7 linked regions of the Homo sapiens genome follow. The protein of the gene in region 7 purifies or fractionates together with the protein of the main gene of each other region. This does not show direct contact. Each region holds a gene or a part of one and is shown on either strand. Other genes may lie near its edges. The genes, in order: NFE2L1, ACADSB, CSE1L, TMEM33, PDHA1, SPNS1 and USP19.

The links.
Region 1: the proteins of USP19 (region 7) and NFE2L1 purify together in Homo sapiens (affinity purification with western blotting; one study listed by BioGRID). This does not show direct contact.
Region 2: the proteins of USP19 (region 7) and ACADSB purify together in Homo sapiens (affinity purification with mass spectrometry; one large-scale study listed by BioGRID and IntAct). This does not show direct contact.
Region 3: the proteins of USP19 (region 7) and CSE1L purify together in Homo sapiens (affinity purification with mass spectrometry; one large-scale study listed by BioGRID and IntAct). This does not show direct contact.
Region 4: the proteins of USP19 (region 7) and TMEM33 purify together in Homo sapiens (affinity purification with mass spectrometry; one large-scale study listed by BioGRID and IntAct). This does not show direct contact.
Region 5: the proteins of USP19 (region 7) and PDHA1 purify together in Homo sapiens (affinity purification with mass spectrometry; one large-scale study listed by BioGRID and IntAct). This does not show direct contact.
Region 6: the proteins of USP19 (region 7) and SPNS1 purify together in Homo sapiens (co-immunoprecipitation; one large-scale study listed by IntAct). This does not show direct contact.

What each region holds. Positions count from the first base shown.
Region 1 is NC_000017.11:48,054,859-48,058,358, reverse strand, and holds part of NFE2L1 (endoplasmic reticulum membrane sensor NFE2L1), read right to left. Parts: intron 1,974-3,500; coding exon 1,761-1,973; intron 1,328-1,760; coding exon 1,238-1,327; intron 1,016-1,237; coding exon 857-1,015; intron 65-856; coding exon 1-64.
Region 2 is NC_000010.11:123,015,506-123,019,005, reverse strand, and holds part of ACADSB (short/branched chain specific acyl-CoA dehydrogenase, mitochondrial isoform 1 precursor), read right to left. Parts: intron 1-3,500. UniProt on the Homo sapiens protein: Short and branched chain specific acyl-CoA dehydrogenase that catalyzes the removal of one hydrogen from C-2 and C-3 of the fatty acyl-CoA thioester, resulting in the formation of trans-2-enoyl-CoA.
Region 3 is NC_000020.11:49,091,312-49,094,380, forward strand, and holds part of CSE1L (exportin-2), read left to right. Parts: intron 1-734; coding exon 735-816; intron 817-2,828; coding exon 2,829-2,975; intron 2,976-3,069. UniProt on the Homo sapiens protein: Export receptor for importin-alpha. Mediates importin-alpha re-export from the nucleus to the cytoplasm after import substrates (cargos) have been released into the nucleoplasm.
Region 4 is NC_000004.12:41,948,929-41,952,428, reverse strand, and holds part of TMEM33 (transmembrane protein 33), read right to left. Parts: intron 3,128-3,500; coding exon 3,044-3,127; intron 1-3,043. UniProt on the Homo sapiens protein: Acts as a regulator of the tubular endoplasmic reticulum (ER) network by modulating intracellular calcium homeostasis. Mechanistically, stimulates PKD2 calcium-dependent activity. Suppresses the RTN3/4-induced formation of the ER tubules.
Region 5 is NC_000023.11:19,353,927-19,357,426, forward strand, and holds part of PDHA1 (pyruvate dehydrogenase E1 component subunit alpha, somatic form, mitochondrial isoform 1 precursor), read left to right. Parts: intron 1-564; coding exon 565-657; intron 658-1,422; coding exon 1,423-1,578; intron 1,579-1,759; coding exon 1,760-1,831; intron 1,832-3,500. UniProt on the Homo sapiens protein: The pyruvate dehydrogenase complex catalyzes the overall conversion of pyruvate to acetyl-CoA and CO(2), and thereby links the glycolytic pathway to the tricarboxylic cycle.
Region 6 is NC_000016.10:28,977,778-28,981,277, reverse strand, and holds part of SPNS1 (protein spinster homolog 1), read right to left. Parts: intron 3,371-3,500; coding exon 3,234-3,370; intron 2,124-3,233; coding exon 1,972-2,123; intron 1,874-1,971; coding exon 1,807-1,873; intron 1-1,806. UniProt on the Homo sapiens protein: Plays a critical role in the phospholipid salvage pathway from lysosomes to the cytosol.
Region 7 is NC_000003.12:49,107,550-49,110,823, forward strand, and holds the end of USP19 (ubiquitin carboxyl-terminal hydrolase 19), read right to left. Parts: coding exon 3,162-3,274; intron 3,056-3,161; coding exon 2,895-3,055; intron 2,814-2,894; coding exon 2,635-2,813; intron 1,637-2,634; coding exon of another isoform or gene 1,409-1,636; exon of another isoform or gene 1,124-1,408; intron 980-1,123; coding exon 863-979; 3' UTR 501-862; downstream 1-500. UniProt on the Homo sapiens protein: Deubiquitinating enzyme that regulates the degradation of various proteins by removing ubiquitin moieties, thereby preventing their proteasomal degradation. Stabilizes RNF123, which promotes CDKN1B degradation and contributes to cell proliferation.

The sequences.
Region 1 (3,500 bases), on a different chromosome or scaffold from region 7:
TCAGTGGGTCTCCAGGAGGGGCACTGTACAGGATTTCACTTGCTGATGTGTTCACTTCCATGGCCTGGGAGGGGAGAAGAGCACCACTGTTCACTAGGAACTGACTCCCTCCCCTGGGGCTCACACACTGCAGGCACCCAACAGAGGCACAGCTGCATGGGTGTAAAGGCAAAATACTATAAACCAAAGCCCACAGTGTCAGCTCCTGACCCAGCTTCGTCCACCAGGCCTGGCAGAGATGGGTTCTTCCATGTAGGCTCCACCCTAATATAGGACTGATCAGCTTTTCCTCATGTTTGGCCAGACTCCCCCATCTTGGAGGGAGAGGAAGAAAACACTACCTTGTTACTGCAAAATCAGCACAGTGAAAAGAACACCCAGACTTAAGTCAGAAAACCTAGCTGCACCACTTGCTGTGTGACGATGGGCACATCATTTAACCTCTGAGCTTCAATTTCCTCACCTTTGAGATAAAGGCTGACTAGATGACTGTGAGGGCCAAGTGAGCGAACGATGGCTGTGAAGCACCATGTGAATGTCAGCTATTATTAACGCACAACCTTGGAAGCATTCAGCCAAGTGCCTATCTGCCTGAAGGAAAGGAAGAAGGCACACCCAGGAGGCAGGCCCTGATTTGGAAGGCTGAGTCCTGAGTTTTATTTAACCCAAACCCTACCTGTCTCCAGCTCCCATTGCCCCAAGGACACACCTGGACAGGTTTCTTCTCATTGTCCCCACTTCTCTATGATTCAGGGAAAGTATTACACTTTCTCTCCTTGGAGATGGAAAAGCAACTGAGTGCTAAGACAATCTGTGCAAAATCCAATAGGTTTGTGCCCGGTTCCGACAATCCTACCTGCATTTCCATGATGGACATGAGATCTTGCCACTGCTGTTCCAAATCAAATGGTGACTCTGTCCCGGTCAGAAGAGGAGACAAGAGGTTGTTTTGAAGAGCAGGGGGCTCACTCTCACTAGGCACTGCTTCTGTTATGCTGGAAATGTCTGCTGGAAACTAGGGCAAAACACAGAGGCTTTAACAAGGGGGAAGGAAAAACCTTGTGCTTTCCTCCCAGAGATTACCACCTGGACCTGTTTCTGTTCTTCCTTCCTCTGCATTTACCCCCAGCAGCCAGAATAAGGCCAGAACCAACAGCTGGCCCCTCAGCCATGGAGGGACACACCAGGTACAGGCTGCCCTGCTCACTTGGTGGACTCTCACTGGAGTCCTGCTCACCTCAGCATTCTCCCCAAAGGGGCAGGTGGCTTCCAGCAGCCTAAGGCACTCTTCCAGGGACAGGGCCGTCTGGTCCTCCCCACTAGGCACCTGTGGCAACAGGAACTGTAAGTCTGATTGACCTGGGCCTTGGCTGCCTGGGGCTGAAGCTTCTTTCCCAGAATGGCTGAAGCCCTGCAGTCTCCCTCCCATTCCCAGGCTAATGGCTGGCCCCGAGTCCCAAACTCCCAGAAACAACAGAAGAGAGTGAAAGAGTCCTGAAGCAAGCAGGAAGATGCTACATGCTCTGCCTCCCTTGCACTGTCTGTTGCCACGGCCTGGCCATTCTGCATCTGCTGCTTTCCACTCCCCCCTTCCAAGGCTCAGCCACTGTGACTTACAGACCCCAACCCAAAACAGAAATTCAGGTCCACCCCACACACCACCTGTCTTCTCTAAAGGAAGTTTCTGGAAGAACTCCAGCCTGGTTTGTGTCAGGGTAGTAGGGACAAGAAGAGAGCCCAGTGAGCAGGGGCGATGGTACCTGTGCAGGGAAGCTCTCCCCAGTCTCTCCATCCACTAGCAGGTTCCGTGCCAGAGCTTCCGCGCCCTCGCCTGCCCAGGTGTCCTGCTCGCCTCCATCTCGCAGCTCCTTCTCCACATCCTGCTCCTTCTGGCGGTGACTATAGTCAAAAACCTCACGCCCAGCCCCCAGATCAATATCCTGTCGCCAAAGGATGTCAATCAGATCTATGTCCTGAAAGACAGATCACATGACTTTAGCTCTAAGATCCCAAGGTCCCTTCCTTGTCCTGCCCCTCAGAGTTCCCTCCTAGTGTCACCCCAGTTAGTCCTGGGTGGGGCCCCTCCCAGCTCTTCACCTGCCAGCCTTTACCCCCTGGTCCCTGCACCAGCAAGTGTTCATTCATCTACTTCCAGACACTATCCCCTTCCCACAAAAAAAAAGAGCCACTAGCAAAACCATTAGTGTGACTATCACCATAAGGGTGCAAAGGATTAGGATCTGGACCAAGACACACCCAGACAAAAGGCAGGGCCGCCTCCCCCCTACATAAGAAAGAAGGGGAACATCAGGAGACACCTCTAGCTTTGGGGATTGGACCCCTTAAAACTTGGTTTGGAGGAAGCTGGCCATGGCAAGCAAGAGCGAATTGTCATGCAGAATTACTTAGCAGTGGCCAGGCTTGCATCAGCCTGTGGTACCATTTCATTTGCATAAAGGGGTGGGGTGGGCTAGAGAGGAAAATCCCTGCATTTCCAACCACCTGATGCAACCAATGACAACGCCATGCTGTCTCCAGCCCTTCCTATAGCCATTCCCCATTCCCCAGCTGGCAGCAAGAGTAAGGCTGAACACCCACAACTCCTCAAGCCCAGGCTCACCTCAAGACTCATCCCCGCCAGAATTCCCTCTCAGCTGATCCTAGCTGCTGCCTCCATTCCAGGGAGGCTCAGGCAGTCAGATGATCCCCAGGGGTGCACCCCACCCCCTGCTCGGGCCAGCCTCACTGTGTCCCCTACACCAGTGCTCTCATTCCCTCACCATACCCCAGGACTCACCAAATCCCCATCAGTCAACCCCCTCAAGGACATAAACCCCATCACTGCTCAGCTACAACTGCCACCTTGGGCACCAAAAATGCTTCCCTCCCGCTCTACCCTGGTGGCTCGTGAACAGTTGCTGCACCAACTGCCACCCCCACTAACAGCATATAACCCCAATAAATAGAGCTATTTGGGCTTCCTATACATGGCACCCCCCTGTAGTCGAGCCCTCCCTACAAGCCTGAAGAAACCCTAAAGTGTTGCCTTCCATCCAGGGGTTAAAATGCAGACATACACTTTCCAGAAAGCAATTTCCTTAGATCAGACCCTCCTCCCTACCTCTAAGTCGGTATTCTTCTCCCATTAACCCCCCCTGACCCTAAGACCTCCCAGACGTACTACTTTAGTCTCCCCACATACACCAACCTGAACAGAAGCCCTGGACCCAGGAGCAGAGGCGGGCTGGGCCACCCGGTGACCAGCCAGCAAAGAGTTAAGGGGCCGGCTGCCTTTGGCATGGCCCCCACCACTGTGAGAGCTGCGGTCCAGGCGGGTCATGGTCTGCGAGATGAGCCCCAGGGCAGCCGGTGCCGGGAAGCCGGACAGGGGGCTGCAAGGAGCTCTTGGCTTTCAGGGAGCACACCAGGCTGGAAGGGTGGCCCCTTGCTAGCTCCGAGGGGCCTGAGGAGGGTGCCCCGCCCGTGCTGCTGCCTGGGCG
Region 2 (3,500 bases), on a different chromosome or scaffold from region 7:
TGATTTTGATTTCCTAAGCCAAATTGTTCATACCTGCTTGATATGGTTTGGCTGTGTCCCCACCCAAATCTCATCTTGAATTGTAGCTCCCATAATCCCCATGTGTCATGGGAGGGACCCAGTGGGAGGTAACTGAATCATGGGGGCGGGTTGTTCCTGTGTTGTTCTCGTGATAGTGAATAAGTCTCACAAGATCTGATCGTTTTATAAAGGGCAGTTCCCCTGCACTTCTCTCTTGCCTGCTGCTATGTAAGACGTGCCTTTGCTCCTCCCTCACCTTCCTCACCACAATTGTGGGGCCTCGTCAGCCACGTGGAACTGCGAATCCATTAAATCTCTTTTTCTTTATAAATTACCCAGTCTTGGGTATGCCTTTATTAGCAGTGTACCAATGGATTAGATTTTAAGTTGATCCCAATTTTATATCCCCAAGCCAAAACTTCTATACCAGAATCTGTCCAACCTCTGCTTGCTTTCTCCATAAATAATAGCTTCTGTTCTAGGTATTCTCCAAAACTGCTAAAAACGCAACCTTTCCCATCTACCAGTCTCTGATTCTTCATTCTAGTCTTTAGGAGTTCCTAACAATGCCTTGCCCTTTTAAGAATTATAGTGATTCCCTCAAAAGAGGGTTAAATAAGCCAAGACAAGACACAAGGCAAGGGAATCAACACAAAGGAAATGGGTTTGCCTGTAGTGTGACCTTGGCCAAGTCAACAATTTCTCTTTCCCAAATTACCAGTGGACAAAAATGAAACCAGACACTCACTTCTATTTTCAAAGAAATTTTAAAAGATAGGATTATTATGGAGCTAAAGTATTTTTTAATCATGTGTAAACCAAAAATAAGATTCTAAGGCCCCCCAAACCAGCTGAACAGACTTCCTCCCTAGCCAGGGGTCTTAAAATTTCACCTGAGAGACTGTTTCAGGCCATGATGGGAAGTGGGGGTCGAACATACCTCATTATACCTCACCAGCATGAACATCAACACAGAACTTTAGGCCTAATAAGAAGCATTTCAATCCATTCTCTCTGAAGTCGGCTACCTGGAGGCTTCATCTGCATGATTAAACTTTGGTCTCTACAACTTCTTATCACAACCCAGACATTCCTTTCTATTCACCCCAGGTTTTTAGCCCAACTCAACCAATTGTCAACCAGAAAATGTTTAAATTTACCTATAGCCTGGAAGCCACCCCCGACTTTCATTATGGGAGTTATTAAAAAATTATTTTAGGCCTATAGAGAGGAAAAGGTGTCCTTGGGAAGTTTTTGTTTCTTTTAAAGCAGCTCCAGGAACGTTTCTTGTCTAGCAGGAAAGCCCGGCTCTTCAAGCTGGGACAGCAAGCTTAGACATGCAAATGCCGGCCATTAGAAACTGTGTCCACCCGGTGAGGTGGCTCACACCTGTAATCCCAGCACTTAGGGAGGCCTAGGTGGATGGATCACGTGAGGTCAGGAGTTCCAGACCAGCCTGACCAAGATGGTAAAATCCTGTCTCTACTAAAAATACAAAAATTAGCCGGGCATGGTGGTAGGTGCCTATAATCCCAGCTGCTTGGGAGGCTGAGGCAGGAGAATCACTTGAACCCGGGAAGAGGAGGTTGCAGTGAGCTGAGATCACGCATTGCACTCCAGCCTAGGCAACAAGAATGAAACTCTGTCTCAAAAAAATAAATAAATAAATATAAGGTAAAGGAGTTGGGCTTGCCTTTATTGTGACCTTAGCCAAGTCAACAATTTCTCTTTCCCAAATTACCAGTGGACAAAAATGAAACAAGACACTCACTTCTATTTTCAAAGAAATTTTAAAAGATAGGACTATTATGGAGTTTAAATTTTTTTTTAATCACATAATTACTTGGGTCCAACAACTTAACAGGCATTGGGAATTTCTTCAACTCACCCTCTTTTTCAGGGAAGATAGTCAGAAGAAACACTTAAATAGATGCCAAAAGACCAGAGTTCCATATCAGGGGTTGCATATTCAACACTGGCTGGGGACAGGGGGTTACCAAATTGAGTGAAGGGAGCATGAACCACGTTCACAACCTCCTCAGTATGCATTCCACCAGCTCCATTAGCTGGCCCTGCCATGTCTTGCACTTCTCAAAACACACCGCTTCTGCTCTCACAGGTTTGTTTTTTTTATGTGACACAAATTCTGTATGTTTGCTTTTAAATATCCTTTTCCTTCTTTTGCTCCAATTCTGAATAAAACACATATGTCACAGAATTTCCTCTGATATCCTACTAAGTCTCCTTTTGCTTCTTTGCTTCTCAACATTTACCCAGGATGGTCTGAACTGTACCCCAAAGGCTGACTTGTCCACTCCTGTTTCTTCACTATCCTTCCGATGCCCCATACCCATTTATGGTTTTGGCTAGCATTTATAGCTCTTAAAGCAAACTAAATATTGCCTGAGAAGGACTCCGTATGTCTATATTTGAGTCCTTGTGGATGAACTGTAACCTAGCTTAATAGGTAGACAAGATTGAAAGCCTAACTTAGGAGTATGCGCCTGTAACAGTAGCTGCGTCTTGGGCAATCCCAGCAGCCATCCTTCAACCACTCATGGACTGCTGAGTGTTCTAACTGTGTTCAAATAAGACAATTGCAAATCTGTAACCAATCCAGCCACTGTGTACCTCACTTCCGATTTGTCACTTCCCTTCATTTGTCTATAAATTTGTTATGACCACAAGGCATCCCTGGAGTCTCTCCAAATCTGCTGTGGTTCTGGGGGCTGCCCAATTTGCTGCTCAATTAAACTCCTTTAAATTTAATTCAGATGAAGTTTTCCTTTTACCATAGCTTTAGCACTGGTCCACTTTCTAGACCCATTTCTGACCAGCTTCTAAGACACTTTCAGTTGTAAGTTTTATTAATACCTAAAACGTGTCTAAAACAGAATTACCTTTCTTCTGTCACCCTAAATTACTTTTTCTCCAGATGTCCCAATCTTTGCCTATCACTAAGCTATTTCATTTAGAAAATGTGTAGTCCATCTAATTCCTCCATTTCAAGATAATTCCCACATCTTCTCAAGTCTTCTTTTATTAACATGTCTTCCTTTCTGATCATCGGTGCTATCACCCTCATTGAGGGCCTTGTTACTCTAAAAGTGGACTTGTGAAATGGTCTAAGTGGGATGTGGCTTCAGAGTCTCACGTGATGAGTTCCTTTTGTGAGCTGCTGACTGTTTTATCTTGTAAACTCCTTTGCAAACAGCACCTTAAAATCTCAATGGCTGCTATTGAAATCTTTCAACAAAAATCTTTGAAACTGTAGATCAATTTCTATAGCCAACAAACTGAGTATGGCAAATAGTTTTAGAGAGAAAGTTCCCTACCAGGTTATAAGGAGAAAGGCCACCTTTCCCCTCCTTCATGGAGTACACTGTTACACAGGTCTACATCCGTGGTTCTCAGTCCAGTAATTTTGCCCCCACGGGACATTTGGCCATGGATGGAGACATTTTGGGTTGTCATAGCTC
Region 3 (3,069 bases), on a different chromosome or scaffold from region 7:
CTGCTTGGGAGGCTGAAGTAGGAGCATCACCTAAGTCCCAGAGGTTGAGGCTGCAGTGAGCCAAGATTACACCCACTGCACTCCATCCTAGGTGACAGAGTGAGACCCTGTCTCAAAAAAAAAAAAGAAAATATTGTAAGGGCCTGGTGCAGTGGCTCTCATCTGTAATCCCAGCACTTTGGGAGGTGAAAGTGGGAGTATTCCTTGAGTCCAGGAGTTAACGACCAGCCTGGGCAACATGGTAAGACCCTGTCTCTACAAAACAGCCAAGCATGGTGGTGTGTGCCTGTAGCCCCAGCTACTCAGGAGGCTGAGGTGGGAGGATCACTTGACCCTGGGAAGTTAAGGCTGCGTGAGCTGTGATCACGCTCCTGCACCCAGCCTAGGTGATAGAGTGAAACCTTCTCACAAGAAAAAAGAAAATATTTTAAGATGTTTGTGTTCTCCAAACATTAAGTTAGTGTTAGTCATATTGTGTTCCAGAGGTTGGTTTATGGTTGGATACCAAAACATTTTTTCAGTAGAGAGAATATTATAAGGAAATATAAATCAAAGAGAGACAGCATGTAAAGGTCTATGACAGAAAGACAAGTTTTCTATTTACTAGAAGGCAGGTATTGATGCCACAGCCTTTGGATGTTAATGATTAAGCATAGGTTTATTTTGCAGACTTATCAGTTACCAGTTTAGTGCGTGAGTTCTCTATGCTGATATTCTGCATCTTCTTTCAACAGGTTTTTTAGTCTTTATTAATTTGTATTGCATAAAATATGGGGCACTAGCACTACAAGAAATATTTGATGGTATACAACCAAAGTAAGTTTGTTTTTATTATTTTTTAAAGGAAGAAAATGTTTTGACTTTTTTTTTAGTACAAATCAGTATCTCTGTCTTATAGATGATGATGTGGTTCTTGGTATGGAGATAGTGTCTATGGTTTTCAAAATATTCTTAGGTATTGGGAGTAAAGAAAAAGTAATCCTGGCCCAGCATGGTGGCTCACGCCCGTAATCCCACACTCTGAGAGGCTGAGGAGGGCGGATTTAGCTCAGGAGTTTGAGACCAGCCTGGGCAATATAGTGAGACTCCATCTCAAAAAAAGAAAAAACACCCTGGAATCATTGTTCTAATCCTCTAGATTAGAGGACCATCTACTCTACACACTGGCATTCTCCACAGCCAGTGTTCTATATTATGTTAAATGGTCAGTGTTGTCTCCAGGAGCCTGCCTTATTAAAACTAACAGCAGAAAACACCACATGTTCTCACTCATAGGTGGGAATTGAACAATGAGAACACTTGGACACAGGGCGGGGAACATCACACTCTGGGGCCTGTCGTGGGATGGGGGGCAGGGGAAGGGAGGGCAGAGGGAGGGATAGCATTAGCAGAAATACCTAATGTAAATGACGAGTTAATGGGTGCAGTAAACCAACTTGGCACATGTATACATATGTAACAAACCTGCACGTTGTGCACATGTACCCTAGAACTTAAAGTATAATTAAAAAAAAAAACCAGAATTTTCCTTCCCCCTTTTTTAAAAAATCGTGCTAATCCATATCGTTCCAATTTTAGTATATGTGCTGCTAATGCAAACACAGCAGAATTTTTCAAATGAGAAATACTTAGGACCAATAAATTAACTTTGTTTTTGACTTATCTGGTATATATGCAAAGAATGTATTTAGGTGGCATTTCCCATTAGTAGGGAATAAAACAATTATAACGATAAGATAAAGAACAACTCTTAGGGAAAATTTCTTCGGGGACAGTTAGATCCCTGTACCTCAGTTATGTCTCAAAAATTCTACATTGACTAAAAAATGAATTACTCTGGAAAGGAGACCAGAAAACATGGCTTCCGGCAGTAGGGGATTTTGAGGAAATCTCATGCACTGCTAGTGGGAGCCTGAATTAGCCTGATCTTTCTAGAGAGCAAAATGTATGCACTTTTTATCCAGAGCATTAGAATTGCCATACCCTTTGAGCCATATTTCCACTTCAAAGAATTGGTTCTATTAACGCATAAACTGAGGATTTTGCATCATTTAGAATTACGGAAAACTTCACTTCTAGCATGTTTGCAACAACATAGAATGATTGGCCGAATTATTTTAAATAGCCATTAGCATTTATGTACCTGCAGGTATGTAAGCAAAGACAGTTGGGAAGCTTATAACCCAAAAATGTTAAAACTAGTTGTTTCTGGGTGGTGGGATGATTCCTTTTTTCCCTCCTTGCTCCTCTCTCTTTTTTTTTTTTTTTTCTTTTTTTTTTTTGAGACTGGCCAGGTGTAATTTTTAAAGAAAAAAGCAGAGAGGGCCAGGAATGGTGGCTCACGCCTGTAATCCTAGCACTTTGGGAGGCTGAGGCAGGTGGATCACCTGAGGTCAGGAGTTCGAGATCAGCCTGGCCAACACAATGAAACCCCATCTCTACTAAAAATACAAAAATTTGCCGGGCGTGGTGGTGGGCACCTGTAATCCCACCTACTCAGGGGGCTGAGGCAGGCAAATTGCTTGAACCCAGGAGGTGGAGGTTGTAGTGAGCTGAGATCACACCGTTCCACTCCAGCCTGGGCAACAAGAGCGAAACTCCGTCTCAAAAAAAAAAAGAAAAGAAAAAGATTATGGCATTTGGCTACAGGGTAGAGGTGTGATGGGGTTTTTTTATGTTTTGACTTTCAGTCTCTTCAGATGATCAAAAACAGCAGTCTTGTTATTTAGTAATTTATCATATTCATAAGAAGTAACTAACATCTAAGCATTTTACTATTTCATTATAGTGATAATCTAATATTAAGTTGATTTATTTTGCTTTAATAGAATGTTTGGAATGGTTTTGGAAAAAATTATTATTCCTGAAATTCAGAAGGTATCTGGAAATGTAGAGAAAAAGATCTGTGCGGTTGGCATAACCAAATTACTAACAGAATGTCCCCCAATGATGGACACTGAGTATACCAAACTGTGGTAAGTACTTCATTTTAATATTTTTGTAAGTTACAGCTTCCTTCCCATATGACTGCAAAATTAACAAAGCTTATTCTCTTGGGGGCCAAGAGAA
Region 4 (3,500 bases), on a different chromosome or scaffold from region 7:
ACAATTTTCACCTTATGTGCTGACTCATCCTGTATAAAGATGCAACTACTATTCTACCTTTTTGTGTCCTGTTTTACTTCTATGGTTAGAAAAAAAGCAACAAATCTACTTTTCTAAACAAGTATTTAATATGCTTGCACAGAAAGACAGGAATAATAATATTTGGAGTAATGCATAATTTTCCAAAACCTGCCCTTCCTGTATCTCCTGTCTTCGTGAGAGCACCATTACAACTCTTAGGCTTCCAAGCCAGAAACCTGTGGGTCTTTAATTTACTCTTTTCTCTCAAGCCCTAATATCCTATCTCCTAATACCTTTCATATTTGTCCCCTTTTCCTTTTACCACTGGATTAATTCAGGCTCTAGACTACTCTAATAGTCTCCAAATTGATATTTTTCTTCTCTTGCTGAGCTTGCAATCCATTTTCTGGAATATTTCTAAATCAGATTTCATCATGGGGGTTCCCAGCCTCTCTATGTTACAATCTTCAAAGGCTCTCCTTACCTCAAAATAAAATCCAAACCCTTTCATGATCTAGTCCTTTCTACCATCTACCTTTGTGGACACAGATATTTATCAATTCTCTATATACTTCCTGAGCTCAAGTATGCTAAGCACTTTTCAGGCACCCATGTGTCAGAACTCAGGCTCATTCTTTAAAAGACTTGGCTTATGTTCCCACCTCCTCAGTGAATTCTTATTTGTCTCTGTCTGTTCTCTATGCTTTCAGAGCACCTTCATCATCACACTGACTTACATAGCTGTCTAATTTATTCAGCAGTGAGTACCTCTGAAAGAAGATATTTTAATTCCACATAAGTTCATCAACATACAATCACTGTTTTAACCAATCAGTCAAATGAATAAAGCTAGAAGACATGAGGACTAATGAAGTCAATCGCTTTCACTAAAGTCACATAGTTCTTTTATTACTGGCTGCATCGCTGGCACAGACCAAGTCAGAGTTCCTTAACAGCACGGACAACAGAACTTTGAACAATGATAAAATTTTTGCATATCTGTGCTGAAGGACCAGTCAGAGAGTTCCTTAATAGCACTGACAACAGAACTTTGAGTAATGACAAAATTTTTGCATATGTGTGCTGACCCACAGTTGCCATCAGCAACACATGGCTTTTGAGTACCCACCTGAACTGTGCTCAAAAGGAACCAAGTTCTAAGTTTTATGAATTTTATTTAAAGGTCAAATGTGGTTGCTGTGCTGTACTGGACAGCACAGCTATAGACAATCTGCACTAGAGATCCAAAAACAACTGAAACCACCAACTTGAGAATAAATATCGTAGGTGAAAATGGTACAAATTGTGAATAGAGATGGTCTCAAAACCTTTAATTAAAAAAAGTGTAGTACTGAAAATGTAGTTTTATAGCCTGTTTATCAATATTTACAAGCTGAAATATTTTCCATTACCTTTCCACTGGTTTGGTTAAAATGGGTGCTTATAAGACAGCTTTGAAGATGTTTACCAGCACATATTTGTGTTATCTTGATTCACTGCTATCCTTTCCTTTTCAGTCCACTGAAAACTGAATTCTAGATGTACTAATATGATTTAAGGGTATGTGAAGAAAATGGGAATGGAGAAGGAGGCACAAAGAAGCACAGAAAAACAAATATGCTGATTAAAATAACAGATGTCAGGGCAAGAGAATATAAGATAATGTCTGAAATGAATATAGGGACCAGAAAGAAAAAAGGCTAAAACTCAAGAAATCAAGTAAAAATGAATGTTAATTTGCTACTAGAGACTCACTAAGAACGAATGTCTAAAATAAGTTCTATTTTAGAAAGTATTATAAAAAAGACATTGTCTAATAGAGCATAAAAACGCTCTGAACAGAAAATCAGATCATAGAATAATGAAAATGAACTAGTAAGAACATAACAGTCTAAGTACTTTTAAAATATTACTTCGCTTCACCCCCAGAAGGAGTTATTTCCTCTACCAATGAAGAAATCCAAATAAATAACCTGCCTAGTCACACAACTAGTTAATGATGGGCCAGCATTCAAATTCAAGTTCTTTTTACTGTACTTATGAAAATATACAGATTGCTGTAATGCACTCATTGGATTTCTAGCTGAATTCTACATTATTTTAAACTTAAAAATAGATTATCTTAATATTAGTATTTGAGTATCATTTTAGTTTTACTCCAATGCTTGAGATCAGAATGCATAATTTAGTGTATATTAATTTAAGCCTCCATTCCTGAAAACTACAGTAATTCCCTAAAATTTCTCTGCTTCCCCATTTTTCTGCTTCAAACTCTTCTGGCACAAGGGTATCAGAAGAATATTCTGACGATGTCAAAACCATCATTCCCATTCACCTAAAAGATAAATTCCAAACTTCTTACCCTAAAACTCAAGAAGTTTTATAATATAGCTCCAATATACCTTTCTAATCTTAGCTCCAGCAATTAGCCATTCAGAATCTCCATTAGAGTCAAAACAGCTCTACATAAAGTTCCTCAAATATGGCTTGTGCTTCTCGTCTCTCTTGCCCCACCTAAAATGCTTTTCCCTATTCAAAAGCTTTACTCCTCCCACAATCTCAATTTTGTGAAACCTTCCTGGGCTCATCTATCTTCTGGCCCAATGATCTCTCCCTTCTGTGGACTGCAGTACTGATATAATAAAGCAAACATATGGCATTCATTATCTATTGGCTTGTGAATTCTGTATCCTAACCATTGTTTATCTAATTGACACGTGTTTTGTTTCTTCAACTAGGAAAGTTGAGAGTGGAATCTATGTCTTATACATTTTAAAATTTGCTAAGTTTTAGCAGTGCTTTAGAGGTGGCGTAGATAACTGCAGTCTCAGTTTCTAAGAACAAATACAACCACTTCCTCACCAACCCCAGTACATTCTAAGGCCTAGAACTTAAATTTACAAAAACACTGCTTGCTTCTAAAGTCTAACACATTAGCTAAGTAACTCTTAAGAATTGCGAATACTATATATTCACAATACTCTCAACAAATAAAACATGCCTAAAATAATCATCAGCTTACCGACAATATGGGTTTCTTCGAGACGAATATCGAAGGGTAAGAAATCTATAGTATATAAAAGGTTGGAGCAAACTTCCTTGACCACTGAAATAAACAAATACAAGCGTGATAAATATACATTTCAATTCATGTGTATACTCTCAAAACTTAAAAGCAATTCAACTGGAGAATATGTGTATCTTCATTCATCAAATGGTCATAGTGAAATCTATCATGTCTAAATCCAAGTTATCCTTAAAAAAGGATATAAAAGAATGTACATGATTGGTAAAGAGTAAAATGTTGTTTAATTTTTTTATAAATGTATTCTTATCTGTATTACTTTTGAAATTTTTTAAAATACTAAATAAATCAGAAAATGTTAAATAATTCCGTAATTACTAATTGATGAAATCAAGTTGTAAAGCTTCATAAAATATGCAAATGAAAAGTGACTTATTTTATATATATAAAAAGA
Region 5 (3,500 bases), on a different chromosome or scaffold from region 7:
GTGTTGTTTTTTTTTAAACCTAGGTTTTATTTTTCCTTTTGAAATGGAGTCTTGCTCAGCCGCCCAGGCTGGAGCAGTGGTGTAATCTCAGCTCACTGCAACCTCCACCCCCGGGTTCAAGCAATTCTCCTGCCTCAGCCTCCCGAGTAGCTGGGAATATAGTTACGTGCCACCATGCCCAACCATTTTTTGTATTTTTAGTAGAGACGGGGTTTCACCATCTTGTCCAGGATGGTCTCGATCTGTGGACCTCGTGATCTGCCCAAAGTGCTGGGATTACAGGCGTGAGCCACCACGCCCGGCCAGGTTTTATTTTTTAACTCTTGAATGCAGAAATGTTAGTGCTTACTGGTTAAAATAGAACATAGTATTTATATATTACTTTAGTGCTTTATTGAAAATATCGGAGGTGGGATAAACAGAGAGATAGGGTTGGAAGGAGAGTTTGTAGCAGCAGTGTAATTTCTGTGTCAGATTCTGGCCAGGAGTGAAAATGCAGGGCATTAATTAGTATCTCCCCTCATGGATTTCTGTGGTTCCTTTCTCGGTTGTCCTTAATGTTAGGTGCCCCTGGGCGCTGGGATTGCTCTAGCCTGTAAGTATAATGGAAAAGATGAGGTCTGCCTGACTTTATATGGCGATGGTGCTGCTAACCAGGTAATTATGTCTCTTAACTTCCCAAAAACAGTCTTATTTTCAAAGTCTTTAATATTTACAGTTGAATTTCTAAAGAAGTAGCATATTGCTTATTAGGTGAAATAGCAAGTCCTATGGCTAGCTCAAATTTGGTTGACTTATGGCCAGATTAGAGATTGACCTCTTAGCGTTGTTTCACAAGAGACTTACGGGGGCACATTCCTGTGAAGGAGCTCACCTTTGCTCTACATCAGTGCTTGGCAAAGGCCCTGTGGTAAAGGACCTCCCCACAACCTATTGCAAAACAATACAGACCCATTCTCTTGGATGTCCGGGCTGGCAGTGTCAAATTCGGATAATAGCGTCTGAGTCCTAACTCAGTTTCTATGCTTCTCTTGTTACCGAGTAATCCCCAGTCTGTGGCCAGCACTCTGTGAAGCCCTGTTCTAGAGGCTGATTCTTAGGTGCTGGTTCACTCTGGCTATCCAGTGGGCCTGATAGATTTCATATTGATCTTTTTTCCAGTGTGTTCCTTACTGCTAGCATGGCCCCAAAGAAACAAGTAGTAGTTGGTTTGTCACCTTCCTTAGTTGCAAGAGTATGATGCCTGCTACTTCTCCTCCACCACCCACCCCGCTTTCCCTCACCACCCAAAGCTCGGTTTTAGAAGAGGAGGCTTTCTGTGCTTTATGAAAGCTTTCTGTGCCAGGCAGAGCAGCAGCTGTTAGAGATGATGAAGCCTGGAGAAAGAAGCCAAATGAAACCCCTTTTCGTAACTACTTCCAGGGCCAGATATTCGAAGCTTACAACATGGCAGCTTTGTGGAAATTACCTTGTATTTTCATCTGTGAGAATAATCGCTATGGAATGGGAACGTCTGTTGAGAGAGCGGCAGCCAGCACTGATTACTACAAGAGAGGCGATTTCATTCCTGGGCTGAGAGTAAGGACACCTGTGGTGGGGCCGGGGCCAAGGCCAAGGCCAAGGGTATGTCCTTGTGCAGACCCTTGACGATCTTAGAAACATTGGAGAGTTTCATTCTCATACAGGAGCAGGTCATGTGAAAGTAAAATGGTTTGGGGCAGTTGGATTCATGCTTCGCCCCTCCCCTGTTTATTACCAGGTGGATGGAATGGATATCCTGTGCGTCCGAGAGGCAACAAGGTTTGCTGCTGCCTATTGTAGATCTGGGAAGGTAAGGCTCTAAAGCCCTCTGGGCTAGTGACATTTATCTCTGGAAGTTCAAAGACTGCCTCCCATGTGCCTGCTGAAGCTGTTAGTGGGTACCTGCTAATTGAGGTGCATGAGATGGAAGCAGAGTGAAGGGAGCAGGGCTCCTTTGGGTAGCTTGGTCTTGGTAGCTCACCTGCTGGGAAGCCTACGTTTCTCTCATTTGGGGGAAGTCCGTTCTGGTGCTTCCTCTGCTTTGGCCTGTCTTCATGACAACTGATTTGCCTTTTCCTTAGGTTAATTCTGTCCCTCCTCCCCACCCCCCATTAATCATGAGTCCCTTGAAGGAACAGATTGGGGATCCCCACAGTGTCCAGCATAGAATGTCATGTATACAATAGGCATTTAATATGTGTGTCTTATACAAATTAAACAGTATGGTAGAAGCTCGTAATCTTAGTCTTGCTCAGTCCTAAGGATCTTTCCCTTTTCAGTGTATGGCAGTGAGGGAGATGGTAAGAGGGAGACTGGCCTAAAGAGGTTTCACTTCCTTTGGCACTAGTATAGGCTTAGGAGGTTTGGGTGTTCTCCCTAAATCAGTGTTCTACAGCCCAGAAACAAGGTTTCTGAAGTTGGCACTTCAGCGCCATACCATGTACGTTTAGGCAGTGATGTGAATCAGATGTGGCCAGCAATGATGGAAATGTCACAAAGTGGAGAGACAGGGAAGTGAGGGTGGGAATGTAGTAACATTAAATAAGAGCTAATGAGTAGAATGAACTAGAGCAGGACCAAGACTACAGCTTGGGTACAATGGGCTGAGCAGTCTATGTCAGGACCCTAAGGCTGGGAGTGCCAGGCCCTGAGTGATGGGTATTGACGCCACCTCTCCCAATTCCTGAAAAGAATACATGGGGGCCAGCCCTGGCTGGAGACAAGGGGAGTTGTAGAATGTAGTTGTAGAATGTGTGACTTTCCCAAACAGATAACCTTCACAATTCTGAGTTAGGTGTTATTGTTTTGCCCATTTTGCAGACAAGGAAACTGAGCCATAGAGCAGTTAAAGGTACACAGCTACTCTGTCTTGGAGCCAGCTCCCCACTCGCCCATTTTAACTGCTGCACCAAACCAACCAAGGATCCTCAATGTTTCTCCACCCCAGTGTTCAGAGCCGTCTCCTGGAAGTGGGCTAGTGTAGAATGAGCGAGCCCAACTGTCCAGACTCCCAGCAGAGCCTTGGGGTTTGGGTAGCAGAGGTTGTTGGTGCCTGCCAACTTTGTTACACACTAGCAAGGTCTGTGAAGTAGGAGTGGCTGCCAGCCCCACAACACACCATGAGAAAGGAGCATGAGATGGAAATCTGTCTAGCCAATAGCAGGAGGCTCTAGAACATGCTCAGAGCCTTTTTCTTTTTTCACAGGGTCTCGCGCAGTGGCACACTCACAGCTCACTGCACCCTTGACCTTCCAGAATCAGGTGATCCTCCCAAGTAGCTGGGACTACAGGCGCACGCCACCATGCCTGGCTAATTTTTGTATTTTTTGATAGAGATGGGGTTTTGCCATGTTGTCCAGGCTAGTCTCGAACTCCTGGGCGCAAGTGCTCTGCCCACCTCAGCTTCCCAAAGTGCTGGGATTACAGGCATGAGCCACCATGCCTGGCCTTCAAAGCCTTTTTGATTCAAAACAAGCTGT
Region 6 (3,500 bases), on a different chromosome or scaffold from region 7:
AGCTTTGTCTCCTCTTTGGTAATTTTCTTTTGGGAAACCAGTACCCCTACTTCTCTCAATCCACTTGGTTTAAATAGGATCCCAGGCTTGGCCAACAAGAGGACTGTTAACCACCCCAGCCTCGGTGACGGATTCCGCAGAGGGCACGTGATGCATGTTCATCTAGTCAGACGCTATCCTGGAAACACGGCCCCAGGGTCCAAGGTGCCAATGTTGCTAAATGGAAAGGTAATCATCTGGAGTTCTCACGTCCTTAAGAATGATGTTAACACAAAGGAAAGTAAAGCTCAGAAGAGAAGGGCAGTGTGGGAGCCCTGGATCCAGCTTTACCTGACTGAAGCTCACCTGGGACTTTCAGGAAGAAAGCCAAGACAGCCCCTTTAGGGGGCTTACGGTTTGTTTGTTTGTTTGTTTGTTTGTTTTCGAGACAGAGTCTCACTCTGTCACCCAGGCTGGAGTGCAGTGGTGCGATCTCGGCTCACTGCAACCTCCGCCTACTGGGTTCACGCCATTCTCCTGCCTCGGCCTCCTGAGTAGCTGGGACTACAGGCACCTGCCACCACGCCCAGCTAATTTTTTTTTGTATTTTTAGTAGAGACGGGATTTCACTGTGTTAGCCAGGGTGGTCTCAATCTCCTGACCTTGTGATCCACCCACCTTGGCCTCCCAAAGTGCTGGAATTACAGGTGTGAGCCACCGCACCCGGCCTCTAGGGGGCTTACAGTTTTACAATGGGCTTCTGTCACCTGCACGCAAGAATTCTGTCTAGCACATGGCTTCCAGGTGAGGGCAGCCAGTCTCCTGCAGGCTCAGCAGAATGAGAGCTGCCCCAAAAAAGGGGTATTTGGAGCCAGGCGCATGGCTCACACCCGTAAGCCCAGCACTTTAGGAGGCCAAGGCAAGAGGATTGCTTGAGGCCAGGAGTTCAAAACCAACCTGGGCAACATACAAAGACCCCATCTCTACAAAAAAAAAAAATTTTGTGTGTGCAATGGCACGATCTCTGCTCACTGCAACCTCTGCCTCCCGGGTTCAAGCGATTCTCCTGCCTCAGCCTCCCGAGTAGCTGAGATTACAGGCATGCGTCACCATGCCTGGCTAATTATGTATTTTTAGTAGAGACAGGGTTTCACCATGTTGGTCAAGCTGGCCTAGAACTCCTGACCTCAGGTGATCCGCCCACCTCAGCCTCCCAAAGTGCTGGGATTATAGGCGTGAGCCATCATGCCTGGCAAAATTTTTTTTTTTTTTTTTTGAGAAGGAGTCTCGCACTGTCGCCCAGGCTAGAGTGCAGTGGCACAATCTCAGCTTGCTGCAACCTCCGCCTCCTGGGTTCAAGTGATTCTCCTACCTCAGCCCCCCGAGTAGCTGGGATTACAGGCATGCACCACCACGCCCAGCTAATTTTTGTATTTTTAGTAGAGACAGGGTTTCACCATGTTGGCCAGGCTGGTCTTGAATTCCTGACCTCAAGTGATCCACCTGCCTCAGCCTCCCAAAATGCTGGGATACAGGTGTTAGCCACCACACCCAGCCTACAAAAAGAAAAAGTTTTTTTAATTAGCCAGGCATGGTGGCGGGCACCTATAGTCCCAGCTACTTGGGAGGCTGAGGTGGGAGGATCACTTGAGCTCAGGCGTTCCAGGCTACAGTGAGCTATGACTGCACCACTGCACTGCAGCCTGGGTGACACAACAAGACCCTGTCTCTTAAAAGAAAAATGGGCGGTGGGAAGGGGTCCAAAGGTAGGAAACAGGGATCAGTGAGAACGTCGCTGACCTACCCCCAGGCCAAGACCAGACTCACCCTCAGAGCCCAGTGCCAGTCTCCAGCCATATCCTTCACTTTGGAGCCTGCAATGTAGCCCAGACCACTGTGGGAGGGAGAGAGGGGAAAAAGGGGGGACAGCCAGTCAGTCCAGTCCCCCACACCAGGCCCTTCTGCCTTCCCCCAGGCCCCAGGCCCACTCACCTGCCCACCGGAATGGCAAAGTAGAAGATGCTGAGCATCCGGCTCCGCTGGTCGGCCACAAAGAGGTCGGCAATGAGAGTGGGCGCGATGGTGGAATAACTGGCCTCCCCGACCCCCACCAGGCCCCGGGTCAGGAGGAGCAGCCAGAAATGCTGGGGAGAGAGACCGGGGAGAGGTGGCACCCCAGCCTGCAACCAGCCTCCGGGCTACCTCACCAGCCCGCTCCCAAGAGGCAGCAGGGATGGCGGGAGATGCCTGGGTTTTAGAATCACACAGACCTGAGCTTGCATCCTGGCTCCACCACTTACTAGCTGCGATTTGGGGAAAATAACTTAACCTCTCTGAGCCTCAGTTTCCTCATCTGCAAAAGGAGGATAACAACAACTTTTCACAGAGCTATTGCAAGGACTAGACAATAAAAGGTCTAAATAAGACAACCCCTGCTTGCCTGGTAGGGGAAAGTTTTTTAATTTTTTTTTTTTAATGAATAAGTGACCTTAGATGGGAGTTTATGTGTCTACCAAAGGCACCTGAAGCTAAGGACGGGTACAGTCACCCAAGGAAAGTACGTAGGTCCTGGGGCTGAGGACAGAGTTCTGGGGTGGAGTGAGAACAGACAGAGGAGGCTTCAAAGGAACAAAGAAGCAACAGCCAGGGAGGCAGGAGGAAAGCCAGAAGAGTGTGGCATCGCAAAGGTAGGAGAGAGTTTCAGGAAGGAAGAGTGGGTCAACAGTGCCAGAGGCTCCTAGCATGAACAGGACCAGGAAGTTGGAGCTGTGTTTAGCAACTAGGAGGCCACTGTTAACTTTGGCAAGAGCAGGGTCCGTGGAGTGGTGGGAGCAGAAGTCAGTGGCAGCGCTCGAGGGGTGAGCAGGCGTGAGGAAGTGCAGGCAGAGTGATGGCATCTCCCCGGCTGCTCTTTTACCCACACTGGCACCACGCTCTAGGGGCCCTTCAGGAAGTCTGATCAGGAATGAGAGGAGGGAGAGAGGGCAGGCCAGGTAGGGTTTGGAGTGTTTAGGTATGGAGTAGAAGGAGTCAGTGGTCAGGGGAAGAGGGGATAATGGACAGAGAATGCTCTGGAAGAAAAGGGGAGGATGGGGTGGGGCAGGTTAACTCAGGCAAGGAGGGGTATAAAATGGCATGGACCAGGGAAACTGCAGGAGTCCCTGAGGCCCAGTCTGCCATAGCTCCAAGGAGCAGCAGCAGAGACTGACAGGGAGGGGGTGTGGGCAGAAACAGGAGCCAGCTTGGGGCCTCACCTCTCCGGGGATGAAGGATGACCCCAGTGTCACCAGGGACCAGAAGGCAATGCCCCCGCACATGAGATACTTCCGATTGTACCTGTCACCCAGGTAGCCAAACACAGGTGCCAACACCATGTAACTGGAGATGAACACTAGGGGGAAGCAGAGAGTCACAGCTCAGCCCAGGTACCCCTACCTCCCACTCCCACCCCAGCTGGAACCACTAAAGCACAGGAGATGCCTGCCTTCTCCTTACAGAATTCACAACACCCCCACATCCCA
Region 7 (3,274 bases):
GCAAGATCTGCCCCACAGCAGTTTTCCTCCTGCTCTGTTACCTGCAGGGATGCAGTTAGTGTTCAAGTTACAGCAAAGAAAAAGCTGAGGACAGGAGAGGAGGAGGAAGATCTCCCAGTACTTCTGTCCCCCAAGTCCTCCCTGACTTGTCAGCCCCAGGCTGCTCTGGTGAATGCACCTTTTACTCCACGCTGTCAGCTCCAGTGCTTCATATACTCCTCTGTCCCTTGGCTATATTGAGATCCTGACGATGCCTACCAAGCTGCCTCTTATGTAGGATCCAGAACCAGTGGGATGAAAGAGCAGCAGGTAGGCTCCAAAAAGCTGATAGCACTGGGGGCTTCATGACCCATAGGACATGAGCTGGGACCCCATCATCTCCCTTCAGACTAGGGCACTTTCAGGGTCTCTCATATATAAACACACATACACACACATACACACCGCAAATGATGGGGAGGGGAGGTGGCCCCAGCATGTGGTGGATCACAGTCACTAAGTCTACTTACTTATTATTTATTTTTAAAATATATTTAAACAGCAGCAGTCACTTCCAAAATGCAAAAAAAATTACAATTTTTAGAATAAAATTATAATGTTTATAATGCGGGTCAGAAGAATTGAAGGTACAACAGAATCAAATCACGCAGCACTGGAGGCGGCTGGAGAAGCCAAAGCCCACTGGTCAGGGGTCCAAGCTGACAAGAAGTCCCAACCTGAGAGGTCTCCACACCCAAATCATACCCCTCAGCTTCCCATTGACAGAGCCAGTGTCCTCTGGGTTAGAGAAGGAGAAGCGGCAAGGAGCTGGCCCTCTGTGTGGGTGTCCCAAACCCAGTCCCCCCCATCAGCCAGGGACCTGCTAATCCACCTCCTCCATGTTGCTGTAGGTGGGGGCTGGCCGATCCACAGGGGGGGCGAAGCGTTCAGGGGCTGTCCGCGTGGGGGCCACCTCGGGGGCCTGGCCAGGGCCTAGTCCCTGCAACAGAATACGAGGACAGGGGTTGGGGGCTGCCCAGCATGCCGCCTGGCATCCCGGGGGTGCTGGCTTGGAGCCCTGGCACCCAAGGGAGGGTCCCAAGGCAGGCGCAGACAGCAGCGGCGTTGAGACAGAGAGACGAGATTGGGCCTGAATAGTCTGGTTTTATTAACACTTTTAAGTACAGGAAGTAGCTTGGGCAGGGCCAAGCCTGAGGCCAAGGGTCAGAGCAGCAGGATGAATGGACAGACAGCCAGATGGATACACACCCTAGGATACTCTGCCCCTGCAGGGGCCACAACCTCCCCACCCTCTCCCACCAGATGCATAAGCTGAGGCCCAAAGCCCAGAGGTGTTCCCCACAACAAAGGCAGGCATGGCCTGGGGCAGGCAGGTAGGCCAGCTCACAGCAGCTGCCTGCAGGCGAGCTCATCTCCAGCGACTCTGGGATACCAGAGGATAGAACACGTTGAGCACGAGGGCCACCAAAGCCGCCACGGTGCCCAGGACAAAGTACCGGAGGCAGCCCTCATCTGGTGTGGTAGGGCCACGTGGTAGGGGGCCCACCCAGTCTTGGGGCCCCCAGGGACCCAGGGGCCCAGACCCCTCAGGCACCGGCTCCTCCTCAGCCTCCAGCTCCTGCCAAATCCGGGAAGCCTAGGGTATGTGGAAACGGCCATCAGCACCCCGGGGGTGGGGAGGACCCAGTGTCCCTGAGACCCTTAGCCATGACAGTCCCACCTGGGGTGACTGGGGCTAACACCCTGCATTCTAGATCAAACAGCAAGGAGGAAGGCAGGCAGCCAACCTCAGGGCTGTCCAGAGTAAGAGCACAAGGGTAAGAGAATCTTGACAGCATTTTGGCCTACCCTAAACAGCTCTCAATCCACATGCAGCTCCGCATGGAGGTGGGAGGGGAGTTATCTGGTTAGTATTTCAGTCCAGGCCTCCCCAAAGGACACCGATTCATAGAGAACAGGACTGCCAATCCCAGAGCAATCTCCTTGCTCCTTCCCACCCATACCCAGATCCTGACCAGTCTTCTGCAAGGATTTCTCTAAGCTTGACAGAGAAGGCTCAAGAGAGGATGGAGCCAGAAAGGAGACGGCCAGTCCAGAAAAGAGATGTGCCTACGCCCACTAACTGGGCCTATGGCACACCATGTCACTAAAGAGAAGATCCTGAAGGCTCAGCAAAGACAGATGCTTACCTCAAAGAGTATAACAGCCACCAGAGGCCATGGCCAGCCCAAATAGGCCTTGTCTTGAGTGCACACTAGAACTCAGGGACATCACAAGTGAGGGTGTGTGGGCCAGCATGTGGGGAATGTGCAGAGGAAATCTAGGAGAGTGTCAGGTATAGTTCATTCACAGCATAGTGCCCAGTGAGGTTCAGAGCAGTTGCCTGACCTGTGCCAAGTAGGTGCCAATGTGCTTGCCAGTGGCAGCATGTTAGTGTACTTGTATGTTTGTTAGTGTCCCCAAGGCATGGGGATGCCTCTGGCTAAAGCTTTGATGTTAAGAGAACTCTGCAATTCTCATGAATCCCAAGGCTCAATGGGCCTGTGGCTGGAGGAGAGGAAGCTATATCCCCCAACCCGGCCCCAGTCTGTGAACTGTCCCCCAGTATTCTGTAAAGCCTCCCACATGCCTCACCTGGCTGGCAGCAGCCTCAGCTGCAGGGCCTAGGTCTGGGTGGTGCTCAGAGTGACCTGCCCTGGGGGGCCTCTCCACAGGAGAGTTCCGCCGGCGGTAGAAGAGTACATAGGCATAACGCGTCACAACCTGGCTCTCGTCTACCGTTGTCACTGTGCTGTCATCAAACAAGCGCCAGCCTACAGCAGGGTGGGAAGAGTGTGAACAAAGTCTGCACCACCACCCCTACCACCTATCCTGCTGGCTGTGTGTGCCCTCACCCACGTCACTGCGCTGACTGCTACGATCATTGGGCAGGCGTGCACAGGCAGTGTAGTGGCCACCAATCATGCCTCCATAGTGGTTGATGACAGCATATAGATCGTAGCTGGGCAGCTGCTCCTCTTTCTGACCAATGCAGAACTTGCTCAGGTCCAGGTTCCTGCAGGTCAGGTCCAGTCAGGGAGGGGTGAGACAGGCAACAGGCGCTCAGGATGCCCATCCTGGTCCTCACACCCCACCCACAGTTACCAAGGTCCACTGCTTACCTAACAGGGAACTCCACCAAGTCATTGATCTTGTCACGCCAGATAAAACTACGAAAGGAGAAGCGCTTGAGCTGCACGATGAGAACATTTGGCAGGCGCCATAGCAACAGCTG